Linked DNA regions of Homo sapiens: region 2 is linked to region 1. Evidence: fine-mapped expression QTL. A gene starts in region 1. The other region holds a variant in brackets. All regions are shown on one strand. Distances are between the middles of the regions. Region 1 holds the start of SMIM43 (small integral membrane protein 43). Region 2 has its middle 23 kb from the start of PP12613.

Region 1 (8,341 bases):
TAGAGTTTTGATCTTTTTGAACTTTATGCTCCTCTGCAACTGTATTCTGTAGCCAGGGCATAAAATGTTAGTTGTCCTCCCAAGATCCACCATCATCTTCTTCTTCATCAAGAGAAACTGGATTTTTGTCAAAGGCAGTTATATATCCAGCTACAAAAACTACATTTCTCAGACAATCTTGCAGATAGCAGTAGCCAATGACACAGTTCTGGCCAATGAGATGAAGGCAAAAGTTATTGGGCTGCTGAGGAAGCTCTTTAAAAGGAAGTGGATTTGAACTGGCATGCCCCGTTTTCTCTGTGGGCTTCCTCCTTCTTCTTGTGGGGTGCTGCGGGGACCATCTTGGAACCTGGAGGAAAAAGCCAAGGGAACCTCAGCAGCCACCTTAATTAAGCCTGACACCCGTGAGCTGCTGAACCAGCACCAGCAGCTGCCTGCCTCTAACCTCCTTGTTCTGTGAGAAAAGAACAAACCCTCTAATTTATTTAAGCCGCTCTTCAGTCCAGAACTTCCTATTCCATTACCAAGATAAAAATTCATCTTGATTCCCAATAGGAAAGTGTGATTTTTCATCTGAAAGGAAAAGACATCTTGCTTGAAGAATCTGTACCTATTCAATAAATTCAAGTAACTTCAGAGTCATACTAATAAAACAAAAGTCGCAGATAATGGTTTTAGCTCAAACCCACCCATGTCCTTCAGGATCTGTCTATACAGACCAAGAATGGCAGAAATGTTTGGGCTTATTATATAAAAAGCTACTATTAAGGAAAAAAACAAGGTTTTTTTAACCTTAATCCATCAGAAAGCTTTTTCTGCATGCTTATTAAGTTCTGATTACTGGGTCTGAACGCCCTTCTGATAATCCACCTTCCGGTATGGGAAGATGCTCATGACTCAGATACTTAATCAGATCATTATTAACCCATAACATTATTTATTTTGTGTAGACAAAATAAAAAGTGGAGGACTGAGAAATTTATTTCACTGATTCAAACAAAAAAAAAAAACTACATCAAAGATTTACAACTCAATTCTTAACCTTCTCTTGTATGTGACACAGACATCTGACAGTGACATTCTAATGATCCTAGAGTTTTAATTGTGGATTTAGCTTAAATATGCACGAATATCTCAGAGTAGCTGTAAAAATTAAAAACAAAGTACAGCACTGTGTAGATACCTTATGCATTACATTAGTATCTTTAGTGTTCTAACAGTCTCTAGATTAGTAAGTGTGACTTAGAAAACAACAAACATTTCCCACTATTCTAAATGGTTTAACCATTTACAAACTTTAAAATTTTGGTCATTTAAAATTTAACTCTATTGCACTGATTTTGAAACTATAGACAAAATTGGAAATATAGAATGTCAAACTAAAAATAGAGTATTTCATATTTTTTACTCACCTAGTTCCAAGTTTCCACCCCTGCAAGCGAACCAAAAACAAATCCTGGCACCTTGCCATTCCCAGAAAAGCCAGTGCATGGCACACTCTGGGTAAATTTTCTCTCTTATTCTGTAGAATCGCACCAGATGGCATCAGTTCTGCATCTACAGCTGTGCCCTAAAATTGAAGTTCAGACATAGGAATCTACTTTATTAGACATTTTAGATTTTGCAGGTGTGAGTGTGATGTCATTCTCATTCAACTTAAAATGGTTATCTTGCCAAGTAGAACTGCAGATCCATTGCACTTACAAGTTTGGAAATTAGTGCAACAGCCAAGATTGTCCTGATAAGATCTGAAGCCATTTTGAACACCTGAAATTTAGAAACAATGATGAAATAATAACATTTGAAATAAAATACAAATATTACATAATAGAATTATGGCTCATTTCCTTATAATGTAAGAAATTCAAGTCACCTTCTAACATTGCTGAAGAATCACTAAAAACCTTTTTATTGAAAATAAAACACAGGAATCTTCTATAATCAAGTTACATTTATATAATAAGCAGTTATGTTAAATGTTCTTGACTTTTCAAGTGCTTTAATGTCTAGCTCATATATATACAGTCTTTAAAAATAGATTTGGCACATAGTGATTGTCAGAACAGGGGATCGTCAGGGGATGGAGTAGCCAACATGTAGAAGCCTGCAACCTAGACCATTGTGGGTGTCAGAGTATTTGATCTAAGCCAAAAATGCATAAAGGTGGCCAAAATTGTGAGTTTGAAAGTAGTTCTAATTTGAGAGATCAGTCTATGTCAGGTCTTGGAAAAATGATGATTGAATAAATAAATAAACAGCAAAAGACAGCTCATCTACAGCTGTCAAAGTTTCAAAAGCAGAGTCTCTAACAAAGCAAGTGCAGGGCAGGAGATCAACAGCAGCAAGATCTAAGAGCAAATGTGAGTTACCTTAATTCCCAGAGCTTAGAGTCAAGTTCCAAGCAGAGGTTGAGTAATAGGAATAAATATTCATTGTGGCCTGGATAAATGGGAACTTGGTCATTAATGAATTTGATTACAAGGAGTTAATAAAATGGCCCTGGATACAAGATAGAAAGGCACCCCTGCTTTCTTAGGAACCTGAGTCAGTAGAACCAGCTGAGAGATTGGATTAATACTGAGATGGTAATAAACTACTCACCCTGACTTTTCAATAGTCTCTTGTTTAGGAAGAATGATGGGCAGGTTAAATTCATGGATACCAGTGGTGCTGCTAGGAAGATTAAAGGATTGTAAACTCAAGAAGGCAAGCATGTGGTTAAAATAATTTCCATTCTGGTTATTCTAAAGTGTGAAATGATTGTTTTCAATCCTTACAAACAACTATAATTGCTAATTAATTACTCCCACACTCATCTTCAATGTCCATATTAACCATACAACCTTTTAACTAAATGCCACTGCAGAGATATCAACCAATTAGAGAACTATTGTTCAAAGCACAATACAGAATCACTGCAGTTGATTCAGGGAGTTCAAACTGGGAATTCAAATCAAGTCTTACCATAACTCTGATAAAGAGGTGAGGATTTGCTCATACCATAATAATTAAAGTAAACCTCTTACTTCATTAAGAACAGGCCTATTTGGGGAGAGTGAAATAGAAAGTGGGAAATTATCTAATGTCTTGGGCCAAAATTATTCACCTGAGACTATTTTTCCTTTGAAGCATTAAAATAATTGTCTTACACTTCACTTTTATATTATCAACTTAGGCAAACTTTAGTATTTCATTGTTTTTAGCCTCTCTATATGGTCTTTGTGTCTAAAATTAGTATTTTCAATACTATAGTTATGACTTAGCTTATCCCACACTGACATGACTAAACCCAAATCTTCCCTTACTGAAGATTGAGTATATCTGCATCACATATTTCACCCCATGAACCCCCGCACTGTTTTTCAAAAGGGCCGAATGATTATTAAAAGTGCAAACACTCCTGACATCTCATTCAAATTTCCACAATCCTCTACTAAGACACTGATTCTTGCAATGAGTTAGGAGTCAGTTTGGCTTTGTGGATCTGGTAGAAGCTCACCAGATTTGAGTGGGAGAGTGCCCTTTCCTTCCTTGTACCCATTTCCCCCATCCTGAACCAACATGTTTTTAGGCCCTGGATCTTTAGAAGTTTAGTCATAACTAAGGCCAACGTGAAACCATGCGTCATCCCAACTTACCATTTGCAGAAAGCTTCCATCTCCCGTTGTTCCAGCCTTCTTTTTGCAGGCCCAAACTGTCATTGCAGCTGTGGTCCCCTGAGCACCAGTCAAGGGCAGCAGCTCGGCTCTAGAAAGAGAGATGACATAAATCTAGGGAAAAGCTACTGAAGGATGAAGATATTTCCCAAACTAACATTAGCGAGAGGGTACTTAGGGCATACTGGTACTCGAGTTTGCTCCTGCCCGCCCATCTTCTGCAAAAGCTCTAGTAATTTAACCTGAAACCACAGACCCGCCTCTCCGTCCTTTTTCCTGTTTCCCTACACTATGCAAACAGTACCTCTTTTAGCTGGCCCTCCATGCCATCACCCAAAAGGTCACGTACCGGCCAACCCTAAGGCATCTTCCAAATGACTCTCACTGTAACGTTCACCATCCGCTGTCCCAGATTCGAAACCTACCCTGCACGGCAATCCGCAAGCACTAACCGTGGTTGGTGGCTAGAATATGAGTAAGGATCACCGGGAGGAAGGGATTCCTCCCTCCAAATGGACGACTGAATCTTCTCTCCCCCACGCCCCACCCCAGCACCACCAGACGAACCCCATTTACCATCTCTCAAAGCGCAAAAATATTTAAAGCAATATTTAAAATACTTTAAGTGCGCCCCGTTTCCTCCTGCCACCCGTCCCAAAGCCCACACAGTCTTTCTCAAAAATGTGGATATTCAGGTTAACCTGCGATTTTGTTCGAAAGTGGCTAAACTGCATTATCCGAATAATTTACTTTTCCACTCCTTGGGTATAACTAAAATGCAGTTGGACAGAAAAGAGCTTGCAGTTGTCCAAAGTCATTCCGGCTCCAAAGGGCGAATTCTCTTTTCGCCATCTCTCCCAGCCCTGGAACAGCTTAGGGTCCCTCTCGAAGAGCACAGCGCCAGCCCAGACCCCATACACCCACCGTCCCTGGCACCCGAACGCGCTGCGAGCCCCGGGCCTCCCACAGGAGCGGAGACGCGGGTCCCTGCGCCTCACGCCGGAACGGACCCGTCAGAGCCGCCGAGCCCCGCACCTGGAAGCTGGGAGGCCGCGAGGACGGAGAATCGAGGCGGAGACCCAGCCCAGCGCCCGCGCAGCTCGGTGCCCTCCCGCCAGTGCCCGCACTCGGGTCACACCGCTTGCTCTCGGGAGAAGCCCCAAGGCTCGCGGTGCACCGAGAGGCGCCCGGGCTGGAGCGCCCCGGCCGTGTTGGCCACGGAGTTCTTCAGCTGCTTGATGACCACGAAGAGCAGGAGGAAAAGTAAGAAGAGCAGGAAGAAGAAGAGCGCCAGGTAGAGCAGCAAGTTGAGTTCCCACTCCATGCTGGAGGCGCCGGCGCTCGCTGGCCCTGCGCGCTCGGCGCGGGCTGCAGCTGGAGGGCGAGCGCGCCGCCCGCACACCCACCTCCCGCACTCCCGCCCCTCGCGAGGGCGTCCCGCTATGGGCGCCGACTCCGGGGTCCGTGCTTTGCCTCCCCCGGCTCCGAGGAAACGCGCCAAGGAGCTGAGGAAATCCGGCGCAGACTCTCCCAGCTGGCACCAAAGCCTTCCGCTTCGCCGAGATCCTCTCAGGTGCTCTTGAGGACGCGAGCGACTTCCCTAGGAGCGAACTTCCGCGGGCACGGACGCCAGAAGAGGTAACAGCTCAGTCTTCCAGGGGAGGTCGGGACTGGTGTTTTGTAAATGATTTAAAAGTTCCACCCCCAACATCCAGTAGGGTCCCTAGCTCCGCTGCGTTCCCAATTAATTTATTTCGTTATATCCCTCCGTTCCTGCTTTCCGAAAGGACAGGGGATGTCATGGCCCAGAGACCCAAAAGAATGAAAGGTGGCAGTGAAGATGGGGTCTGAAAGGCTATGAGATGATTTCGTGCTATGAGGTGTCTGAGTGAATTCCAGTTCGAGCTGTCTTGCTCTTCAGAGTAGCAGATACATTCAGTGTTGAGTGTACTTTTCTATGGACAACAGGTCACTTGGAAACGCATTAAGAATACAATGTATTTCAGAAGTTATATAGCACAAAGATTTCAAATATTGGCCTCAAATTCAGTTTATTTGGTGAAAAGAGGAAAACAAGTTTACTCAAAGTGTTTCTTGAGTCCCTAAAGCCTTTCTGTATCTGGTTGACGTGACCCAAAGCCCATATCGCGCAGCTTTAAAAGCTGTTCAGTGTATCTATTACTGCAGAACAAATTACCCCCAAATTTAGTGGCTTCAAACAGCATAAACATTGATCATCTCTCACAGTTTCTGTGGGTCCGAAATGTGGGAGCACTGGCTGGGTGATTCTGGTGTCGGGTTACTCATGAGGCTCCGTTCAGATGTCAGCCAGGTCTGCCTTCAGCTGAATGCTTGTGTAGAGGTGGAGGATCCACTTCCAGGGTGGCTCACTCACTGCTTGCCAGGTAGGGCTGGTTGTTGGTGGGAGGCCTCAGTTCCCTTCCATGGGTGCTTCCAATACAGCTGCGGGATTCCCCCAGAACAAGTGATGAAAGAAAACAAAGCAGAGGCTGCAGTGCTCTTTACCGCCAGCTTCAGAAGTCACGTGCCATCAGATCTGTAATATCCTACTGGTCACACAGGTCAGCCCTATTCAGGGTAGGAGTCCAAGGACACGAACGCCAAGGAGTAAGGATCACTGGGGCTCATCTTAGAGTCGGCTATGACAGCTGTTAATACAGCCAGCTATCATTGCCCATTTGTAGGCCTAACTTTATTTTATTCTTTATTTGTGAAGATGCAGAATTGCCTCCTGGACTGAATTCTGGGGATGAGGGCTGACAACATCCCAGATTGTAATAAGTGGCTGCTCCAGGGATGACAGGGGTTCAAAGAGACAGGGTGGTATGAAAACAGTCTGTGAACTGCAAGTCTCATGGACCCGATTCTAGTGTCAGCTCTGTCAGTGGTCACTTTTGCTCAGTGACTCTCAGTCCCCTCATCTGTAACATGCCTTGCTTATCTTTCCCTTGGATTTGTTGTGAGGCTCAAAAATGAGAAAATGTTAAATAAAAATGTGTTTTGCTATATAAATGTCAGATACTGTTATTATTCTATTACGAAGGGCCCCCAATGCTACAAGCTATTGTACAAAATTTCCAGGCCCTAGGCCTCTCCATCAAGCATCTTAGTGCATAAGTGAGAAGAATCTTTCTTTCATTTTCTCTTTGTCTCTCTCTCAATAACATTATATTGATCCACTTCATAGGCAGTGGTATGCTGGAGCTGGCTCGTAATGACTCACAGGAGCTGATTGTTAAATTTTGTAAACCAATTTTTAAATTCCAGCTATTATTAAAAGTTAAATTATATAAACCTACAATTATGTTAACAACAAAGGTAATTAATACTCCAAACTCATCACTTTCTAATTATTTTATTAGGTTGGTAAAAAGGCAATCACGGTTTTTGTCATTAAAAGCAAAAACCGTGATTGCTTTTGCACCAACCTCAGTACTACATTTCACTGCTGTCTATGCACTTGAGGTTATTTACATCTGTTGTAGCTGTGTGGTGAAGATGCTGCATAGTGGTATGTTACTGCGCATCTCTTCCCAGCTGTGTTCAGTGCTGTCATGTTGGTAGCTTGAAATTAGCCATGATGAGTGGGTTTGCCTTGAGAAAATGGACAAATGCTACAAATCAGGACCAGGGAGGCAGTTGTTAAATTAACCAGCACAACACTGCTCGTGGGACTATTGAGAGAAATTTGAAGTCTTATACAAGTTTAGCAAAGATTTGTGATTTTTTTTTTTTGACTGCCCAGAATCCACACACCTCCACTCTAAGCACCACATGTTCCTACGGGTGGAATTCTCCATTTTATGTAATCTTGGCAAGAAGACAGATCCCAGTGCCTACTTTCCCTTGCCACCTCCTGTTATGGAAACCAAGGGGATCAGATATATCTTTTACCCACTCCTGATACAGTGTGGGGAGGAGGGCAGGAAGAGCTATGCCAGAAATTTAGCTAAATATCCTTGTCTCCAGTACTCTGAATCTTGGGAGTTGACAGAACAGGAGGAATGTTCGGAAGTCAGATGCATCCCCGTTGCACAGGCAATCTGAGTGCCAGAACAGTCCCAAGAGTGACCTAGCCATGGCTACTGCTACCTGCTTCGACAGCATCCTCAACTCCTGGCCCAGACTGGGCCCTCCTGCTTTCTTTCCATTCCGTAACCTTCCACTGGCTTTCCAGGAAATCTTGCTGCGAGGCAGAGTGGTTAGCGCCAGTTTTCAAAGGAGAATGCTAACCAATTAAGAAAGCATTGCTTAAGTACTTTGCACATGTTAAGCACTCTTAATTAACGAGGTGTTTGGTCGGAAAGGCATGTGATTTGGCACATTGCCATCCAGATATCCAAGGTATCTAAGGATGAAAACTGAAGCATGGAGAGGTTAAGTGACTTGCTGAAGACCACACCGCTGGCAAGTGGCAGGAGAGGGATGTGAACCCAGGAAGTCTGGCTCCAGAGCCTGCACTCCCAACCCTCATGATTGTACTGCCTCTCAGGGAAAAGTATACTTTTGTGTGCATGACCATCAAATTAATCACCATATTTTTTTCTTTTGAGCGTCAGACTAAAAAGAAACACATTTCAAGAGACATATGCCTTCTGCATCTCAGCTCCTACTTTTGAAATCTTGAAGGTCAGAACTTCAAATGAGCCAGTGTTTGCCTGCAG
Region 2 (8,341 bases), 22 kb before region 1:
CAATTTAACAAATATGGAGAGCAGCTCAGATCTTGTTATACGTCATAAAATTCCTACAAGAGAAAGAATCCAGTTTGGATTATAGCTTTGAAAAAAATGTATCATAATTCAGAGACTCTCTACACAGAAGAAAACGTGTAAGTATAATGAATGTGAAAAACATTTCAATTCCGTCTCACCCTTTACTGTCCATCACAGAACACACGCTGGAGAAGGCAGATGTGCGGTGACCCCAGAAACATCCTCGCCAGGGCTCTGCTTTGCCTCATGTCAGCAGCCTTGCTGGGCAGAAACCTCACACACATAATGAATGTGGAACCCTCCAGGCCCCATGAACATCAGAGGGCTCGCGCTGGAAATATTTAGATCCTGGCATTGCTTCTCTCTCCTCTCAACTACTCAGATGCTCGTTATCTCTGTGTTCATAGATTTTTGGCTCTTGATTATGTTTTAGTTAGGTCAAAAAGTCTGCTGACATTGATCAAATCCTACTACTACTACTAACTTTTAATGGTTCATCTGAGCCTACTGAATATAGTCAGAACTCTCCAAAATGTCTCTGTGTGCATTCTGAAATTCTGAGCAGGAGGCTGAAGGACCTCAGGGCATGGGGTGTGTTTTCATCTTTCATTCCAAGAGAAGTCTGTGACTTTGCAAGATTAAAGAGGATGTGAGAAGTAACCAGCCGGCTTTCTTTATGGATAGGGGTGAATTTGGATTTCTGGAACAGTGGACTCTTGTGGAGGCTGGACTATTTTTGCATAAGCTGGAAAGAATACATTCGGCAGAAAAGTGCCAACCTGACATTTGCAGGGAAGGAAAAAATGCCCAGATACAACTGTACACATATGAAGAATACCAGGAATCACATGGGAAGAACAATAGCATAGGAGCAGACTAATAAGTCTTGGCAGAAACAAGGAAGTGGATTAGGAACAATACCATGACTTCAGATATCTATATAGATTATCAAAGTAAAGGTTAATTCATAATACATCTAATGAATTTAAAATTTTAGCAAAAGGAGAGGAATACTGTGTCAAACAAAAGAAGATATTGTGAAATGGGACAAAAAAGTAAGAATGCAGTGATGAAGACTACTTTACCTAGCAGAAACACTAGGTAACATGATCAGTAACTATACATCACATATGGTCACATATGTTCAAGGTGTTTCTCAAGTATTATTATCTGCCTTTTCAGATGGGGAAACTGAGGCACAGAGAGGCAGTCACGTGATCAATCTAGGATTTAAATGCAACAGCCTGGCTCCAGTATCTAAGCACTGCCTCTCTAATAGAGTAGAGCTAGCCAACAGAGAGTGAGAGAAATTCATATACTAGAGAATGGAATCAATCATTGTGAGATCATTTCAGTTGCAAATAAAATGAGAGAAAAAAAGTGAAATTCATGTAAGACAGGCATCCTGGGCAGGCATTAGATAAAATAATGCAGTTTAATTCAGAGAAATAGCTGGCACAGAGACAAAATGTAGTACTGATTGATTATTTCAGCTGTTAGAAAATCTGTTGTCCAAATGTCCTCCCTTCCTCTGTGTGGGTTCTGAGAAGCCACAGCTGGTGAAGGCAGTTTTGCGTCAAAGCTGCAAGGAATGTGGAGGAATCATGGAGAACAGGGTGAGAACCACAAGTTTAGGGGCTGGCTGGCAAATGGTCCTCTTTTCAAAAAGCAGACAGAGTGGGCTGGGGTGAGGAGAGGAGTCTGGAAATTATGAAAGAACAAGTTTAATGTCAATCCATATCAAAATTCTATGTTTAAAAATAGAGTCTGTGAGCATTTAGAAGTGCAGCCATCTGAAAACCACTAAGTCGTACTTTGTATTTTGTAGGAGTGGAGATCAAATTCCAAATGTAGGCCAATCATTTCCAGTTTCTTCACAGTAGATAAGACTGGCTAAAATCTACTGTGCCCACCAGGTTAGAAAGTACACCAGCTATCTCAGCATGGCTGTTTGTGTTGGCAATAAGGAATCTGGAATCAGTGACTTGCTGTCACTGACCAGACACCCAGTGAGCCCAGAGTAAAATTCTGATTTACAGCCTATTTCTATTCATCACCATGTTGGCCTAGACCGTATGACAAGGCTTCTAACTCACTTTTTTTGCCTAGCTCTCTAATTCCAGTTTGTCCTAGAGGCTTATCCTTTGCTCTAGTCCACTAGGTTCAGCTTCCTTTAGTCCTGGCCTCTGACCCAATGTAAATGGACTGATTATCCAGATGTACAATGCTACCCACTGCCTGGATACCTACTCTCAGGCTTCACCACATAAGTCTGCCTAAAATGTACACTAATTCAACACCTGTCTTTGAACACTGCATATGGTGGAGGCAGTCCGACTCAGACTTCCAGGGCCCCATCTTCATAAGGGTTCACAGCTTTCTCTGTCTCCCTGCAAGGCATCATCCATTGCCTTCCTGCAATATAAACTGATTCTCTTGGGCCGTAATAAGAAATGCCATAAGCATAGTAAAAAGTAGTTTTCCCCTGGTATCTGACAAAACTTCGTGATTTTCTATTGACAAGATGGGGAGATGTGGTGTGGATGATAGAACAGTTAGGTGGATTGATATCTAGCTGAAAACTAAACTCGAAGTGTCTTGAGAAATGAATCCACGTCAAACAGCCTAGAAGGAAGTATGGGCATGTTCTAAGCCTATATCTGACCCAAACTTAAACAATGATTTTGCCAGAAACCAGATAAAGACATAAAAGGCAAAAAAGTTAGCCAAGTTTCCTACGACAACAGCCTAAGAGAGTTAATATGTGGGATAACTGTATGAAGAAATTTTTATCATTTCCTTATTTGTCAACTATATGTCAATAAAGCAAAAAAATAATAAGTAAGGTTAGAAATCTAAGATTTTAACATCTCTTTACAAGTTGGAAAGTTGAGGTTTAATTAAAATCAACCAACCAACAACAAAAATAAAAACACCCTGACTATAAAAAAAAAAAAAAAGAAAAGAAAAAAGGAAAATACAAGCTGGGCCCAGAGCATCTTGTAAGAAAGTAAAGAGTGCTCACAAAAAGAAAGGGTGGAATACATAAAAGAAATGCAGGAGCCAACCCCAAAGAGCTCACCGCCCGCATACAAACAACCATCATCTTTCCCCTGGATTGTGGCTGGGGCCTCCAAACAACCATCATCTTTCTCCTGGATTGTGGGTGGGGCCTCCTAAACCGGTTTCCCTGGCT[CT/C]ATTCTTGCCCTTTCAAGTCACTTCTCAACATAGCAGAGTGACCTAACCCATTATTCCTTCACTTGAAAGCACTAACCCATCATTCCTCCTCTTGAAACTGTCCAATGGCTCCCCATCACACTCAGAATAAAGCCCAACGTTTGTACCATGGTCCACAAGGCCCTCCACTTGCTGCTGCTTTCTCCCTCAGCACCCCTTCAGGCGCCAGCCCCTGCTGGCTCCCTCCACAGTGGCCGGCCTGCTGCACCTCCATTATGTCAGGCAAGCTCCTGCCTTAGAGCCTTCGCATTCCCTATTCCCTCTGCCTAGAAGGGCTTCCCCCAGATGCCCACAGTGCCGGCTCCTGTGCCTCCTTCAATCCCTCACTCAACTCTCATCTCACGGCGGCCTACCCTGACCACCTATTTGACTACAGCTTTTCAAGGGCCCCTTACGCTGCTCGACTTTCTCCTTTTTCATAGCAGTGTCTCCTTCTAATGGCACAAGATAATTTGCTAATTATGTTTTATGTTTCTTTTCTGTCTCCCTGCTCTAGACTGTAAGTTCCTAAAGGCAGGAATCATCTATTTTTTTCAGCCATGTACCCGATAACCCAGAACAGTACCTGACACTTTGTAGGTACTCAATGTACCTACAATATTTGCTGAATAAATTAATGGTTTAGCTGTTAATTAATTAGTCATTAATTAGCTAAAGAGACGTCCCTTTAGGTTGCTTCTATTCCTTTGCTTTTAACATCGATATCCTTATACATGTCTCTAGTGTGTATGTATGTTTCTCTATAAAGATAGGAAAAGGTGGAATTACTGATTACGTGCAGTTTAAATGTCAATAGATACTGCCAAATTGCCCTTCAATGTATCCATTCAGATTCACATTCCTACCATAGTGTGTGAGGACTTGTTTACCCGAGCCAACAGCATCACTTTTTAAGTGGAATATAATCTAACTGGAGGGCTGCCAGAGGGAGCAAACAGAACGGTAGAGTCTGGCACTCTCTAAAAGAAACTTCGTCTGTTTAACCTAGAGAAGAGAAAATTCTGAAGAGCTCTCGTGAAAGAAGAATTCTAATTATTCTTTGACATCCTAGTGCTGTAAAATCCTGCCTTCCCAGACCTACCCACAGGGCAACTTGACTCGTACTTGTTTCTGAATTCCATGACCTTCCCTGTTCCTAACGATGCTAATGAATTCAATTATTTGTGTATTGACCAAGGGGCAAAATACCAGATAAATTCTCTGTCTTTTTTGATATCATGTTTGCTAAGGAGCTGACTTCATATCATAAAGTAGTTGTTGTAACAATGTAACAATTTCGTCTCACTTTTTGTTGTTTGAATCCCAATATTAAGATGACATATACTAGATAAAAATGTTCTAATTGCCAATTAGCTTGTTCAATCTCATCAATAACTTTAAACTACAAGAATAAAATTTTTTAATCTATCAGATTGGAAAATATAAAAAAGGTCATGTACTGTTACGTAGAGTATAAATGATTACAACTCTGGAAATCAATCTAACAATGACAGAAATATAAAATGTGCACATGCTTTAAGTCAAAAATTCTATTTTTAGGAGTTATCCTAAGGAAAGAATTATGGACGTGGACAAGGACTTAGCTAATAAGGGCTTCCAAATTCATTCATTTATACTAATGAAAAAATTTAAATAAAATATCCATCTATACAAGGTTTGTTATGCAAATTATGTTACTAAGTTTAATGGAATACATGCAGCCATTAAAATTTTGAAGTAGGTCTGTGTGCTGGGTATTTCCCCACTGACCCTCCAGATCTATCTTTCACCCTTTTCCACCCTACCTTGTGTCCTAGGAGGGGTATCAATGGGCTCCCTCATCCTCTGGTTTTGTCTGGGTTTGACCACTGGGAAGCAATGGTAGAAAATGAATCGTTGGAAGGAATGAGGGGTCTGAGTATTCCTTCCCTTTCTTCCCTCCCTGTTGAGTCACCAAGCGCTGGCTGTGTTTTCCAAAGACCCTGGTTCCTGTCAAGCGGATATTTCCCACCACTACTCTCCTGGGTCCTGGCAACTGCCCCTCCTTTCACCTCTCTAGACCCAGGGCTGGTAATAGCTCCAGCTCCCCACTGTGGCTGTCCCTGAGGTGCTTGCCCAGTCTCTGCTGGTTCCCTAAACCCTGTCCACAGTCCTATAATGCAGCTTTAATTTCTGCCATCCAGTATTGAAAGTTCAACAAATGGAGAGGAGAAACATACCACATTTTTGGTTCTGCATTTTCATCCTATTTTGATGTACAAAATTGTACATCAAAACATAGATTGTGTAAGGGACACAAAAAAATTAGTTATACACAACATTTAAAATGCACAGAAAGTTGAAGTTTTCTGTATTAGCTATTGTATCTTGCTTTGAGAATGTTATTTAAAAAGAAAGCAGATCAAGCTAAGAAGCAAAGAATAAAGAGTAATCCATTACAAAACACTATTATAACCAAATAGGAAAGTGTCCTGAAGTGTTAGAGTGATAGTAAAGACCCACAGACAACCATGGACTTAAATTAAGCAGTAAAAATCCCATTGAGAGAAGAAATACCAGCTACCTAATCAATCACATGATTACTTTCTCTAATAGACTTAAAAAATAAAATATATATGGTAATCAGCCCTAATTTTAAAACTTCAGGAAGACTTTTAAATAATAAGAATAGCACTTTTTTCAATATTAACACATTTATTATACATTATGTTTCAATACAAATTTTCTAAATATGATAATGTATCATATTATCAAGGTTAACTTTTAAACATTAATTATTTAGATTATAGATGGGATAAGAACAATCTGCAAGCAGCATTGGGATTTATTTTCACAGGTAATAGGAGTTTCCTCCAGCTACAAGGCAGAAGTTATCTTCCAAATCTGTTTTATAAAATGCAGATCAAAGCCAATGAGTGGGTCCTGAAATCAATTTAGTGGATAGAGTGAGAGGGGGCAAGTAGTATTTTTTAATGACATAAAATGACTAGAATAGAATTAGAATAAAACAGAAAGTATCAGAGTGCCTTTCACTTAAGTGTACCGTATAATGAAACTTGTATTTCATTTATTTTCATGTGCACTGGGTCACAAGGCAAAATGCATTTCTTACTGGGTCTTGGTCAAAACCTTTTGAAAGCCTCTGTTCTAGTCTGTGCTAACCTCTAACAATTTCACTGCTTTCAGCCAAGGTTACAGTACAACTAATAAAAGCAGCAGACAGAAGTAAAGGTGAAGATCAAAACAGAACAAATTTATAGCAAATGTGTTAGGGTAGAGAACATTTTAATGTTATTATCCTAAAAGGAATCTTTAGACTGATAAAAGCTATGGTATTTAACTGTCATGGCTATAATGGCCTTAGCTATAACTTCTGAATCTCAGTGGGAATGGTAGGGGAATAACTGTATTGCACAACTGGTAACTTACCTTTTCTGATATTTCTCCAAGAGAGGCTGTTCATTAAATTACTTTAAATAAATATCTGGTGTGATTGCAGACAACATGATTCAAATTAAAAAGTAAGGCAGATAAAAACTGTCACACATTATTGAGAAAAGCAATTACAAAAAACAGCACTAGAATAGGTTCCAAATTATGACTCGAAAAATAATAAAAATATGTTATATATATGAAAAAGATAGGAAAATCAATTAAGGGCATAGGATTATGGAATATCTTTAATAAGTGTCTGAATACTTATACTGAGTACACATTACTTTTATATTCAGAAAAAGAAATAAGGATATATTTGCAATATTCTTCAAAAAAGAAAGCAAAAAGTCACGTGGAAAGCTCTCCATCTCAAGAATTCTTGGGACCCAGGTTTTCCAGAGTCAAGCAAATCCTGCCTTTGAGCATTACAACTGGACCAGGGTGGTGAGGCCTCTTCCCCTGAAGGCATGTCAGATATCCAAATATTAGGTTCAAAAACAATTTCACAGGCCAGGCCCTGTGGCTCATGCCTGTAATTCCAGCGCTTTGCAGGGCCAAGGCGGGAGGATCACTTGAGGTCAGGAGTTTGAGACCAGCCTGGCCAACATGGTGAAACCCTGTCTCTACAAAAAATACAGAAATTAGCCGGGTGTGGTGGCACGCGCATGTAGTCCCAGCTTCTTGGGAGGCTGAGGCAGGAGAATCGCTGGAACCCAGGAGGTGGAGGTTGCAGTGAGCCGAGATCCCACCGCTGCACTCCGGCCTGGGTGACAGAGTGAGACTCTGGCATTAAAAAAAAAAAGAAAAAAAATTCACAAGTGGTTTTCCTAAATTTTATTTTATTTATTTATTTTTTTAAATGTCCCACAAATATTTTATTATCATTATCATTATTATTATTATTATACTTTAAGTTCTAGGGTACATGTGCACAACGTGCAGATTTGTTACATAGGTATACATGTACTATGTTGGTTTGCTGCACCCATCAACTCGTCATTTACATTAGGTATTTTTCCTAATGCTATCCTTCCCCAAGGCCCCAGTGTGTGATGTTCCCCACCCTGTGTCCATGTGTTCTCATTGTTCAACTCCCACTTATGAGTGAGAACATGTGATGTTTGGTTTTCTGTCCTTGTGATAGTTTGCTGAAAATGATGGTTTCCAGCTTCATCCGTGTCCCTGCAAAGGACATGTACTCATCCTTTTTTATGGCTGCATAGTATTCAATGGTATATATGTGCCACATTTTCTTTTTTTTTTTTAATTATACTTTAAGTTCTAGGATACATGTGCACAACGTGCAGATTTGTTACATATGTATACATGTGCCATGTTGGTGTGCTGCACCCAGTAACTCATCATTTACATTGGGTATATCTCCTAATGCTTTCCCTCCCCCCTTCCCCTGACCCACAACAGGCCCGAGTGTGTGATGTTCCCCTTCCTGTGTTCAAGTGTTCTCATTGTTCAATTCTCACCTGTGAGTGAGAACATGCAGTGTTTGGTTTTTCGTTCTTGGAATAGTTTGCTGAGAATGATGGTTTCCAGCTTCATCCATGTCCCACAAAGGACATGAACTCATCCTTTTTTATGGCTGCATAGTATTCCATGGTATATATGTGCCACATTTTCTTAATCCAGTCTATCATTGATGGACATTTGGGTT

The links. PIP is the estimated chance that this variant, and not a neighbour inherited with it, causes the effect.
Region 2: its variant is fine-mapped to the expression of SMIM43 in lung (TOPMed, PIP 0.99).

Annotation. Positions count from the first base shown.
Region 1 is chr4:121,760,126-121,768,466 of GRCh38, forward strand. SMIM43 (small integral membrane protein 43) reads right to left here and starts at 5,039. Exons shown (of 6, transcript NM_001384332.1): 1 at 4,692-5,039; 2 at 3,639-3,747; 3 at 2,602-2,673; 4 at 1,705-1,767; 5 at 1,413-1,570; 6 at 1-349. The coding sequence starts at 4,980. The coding sequence ends at 4,789. It overlaps PP12613 (a long non-coding RNA gene), which reads left to right and starts at 4,460. Exons shown (of 1, transcript NR_024365.1): 1 at 4,460-6,683. RefSeq lists an enhancer at 884-1,053.
Region 2 is chr4:121,737,749-121,746,089 of GRCh38, forward strand. No RefSeq gene overlaps it. Among named protein-coding and RNA genes, the nearest start is that of PP12613, 23 kb to the right of the region's middle. The variant CT/C (reference allele first, on the strand shown) is at 3,218.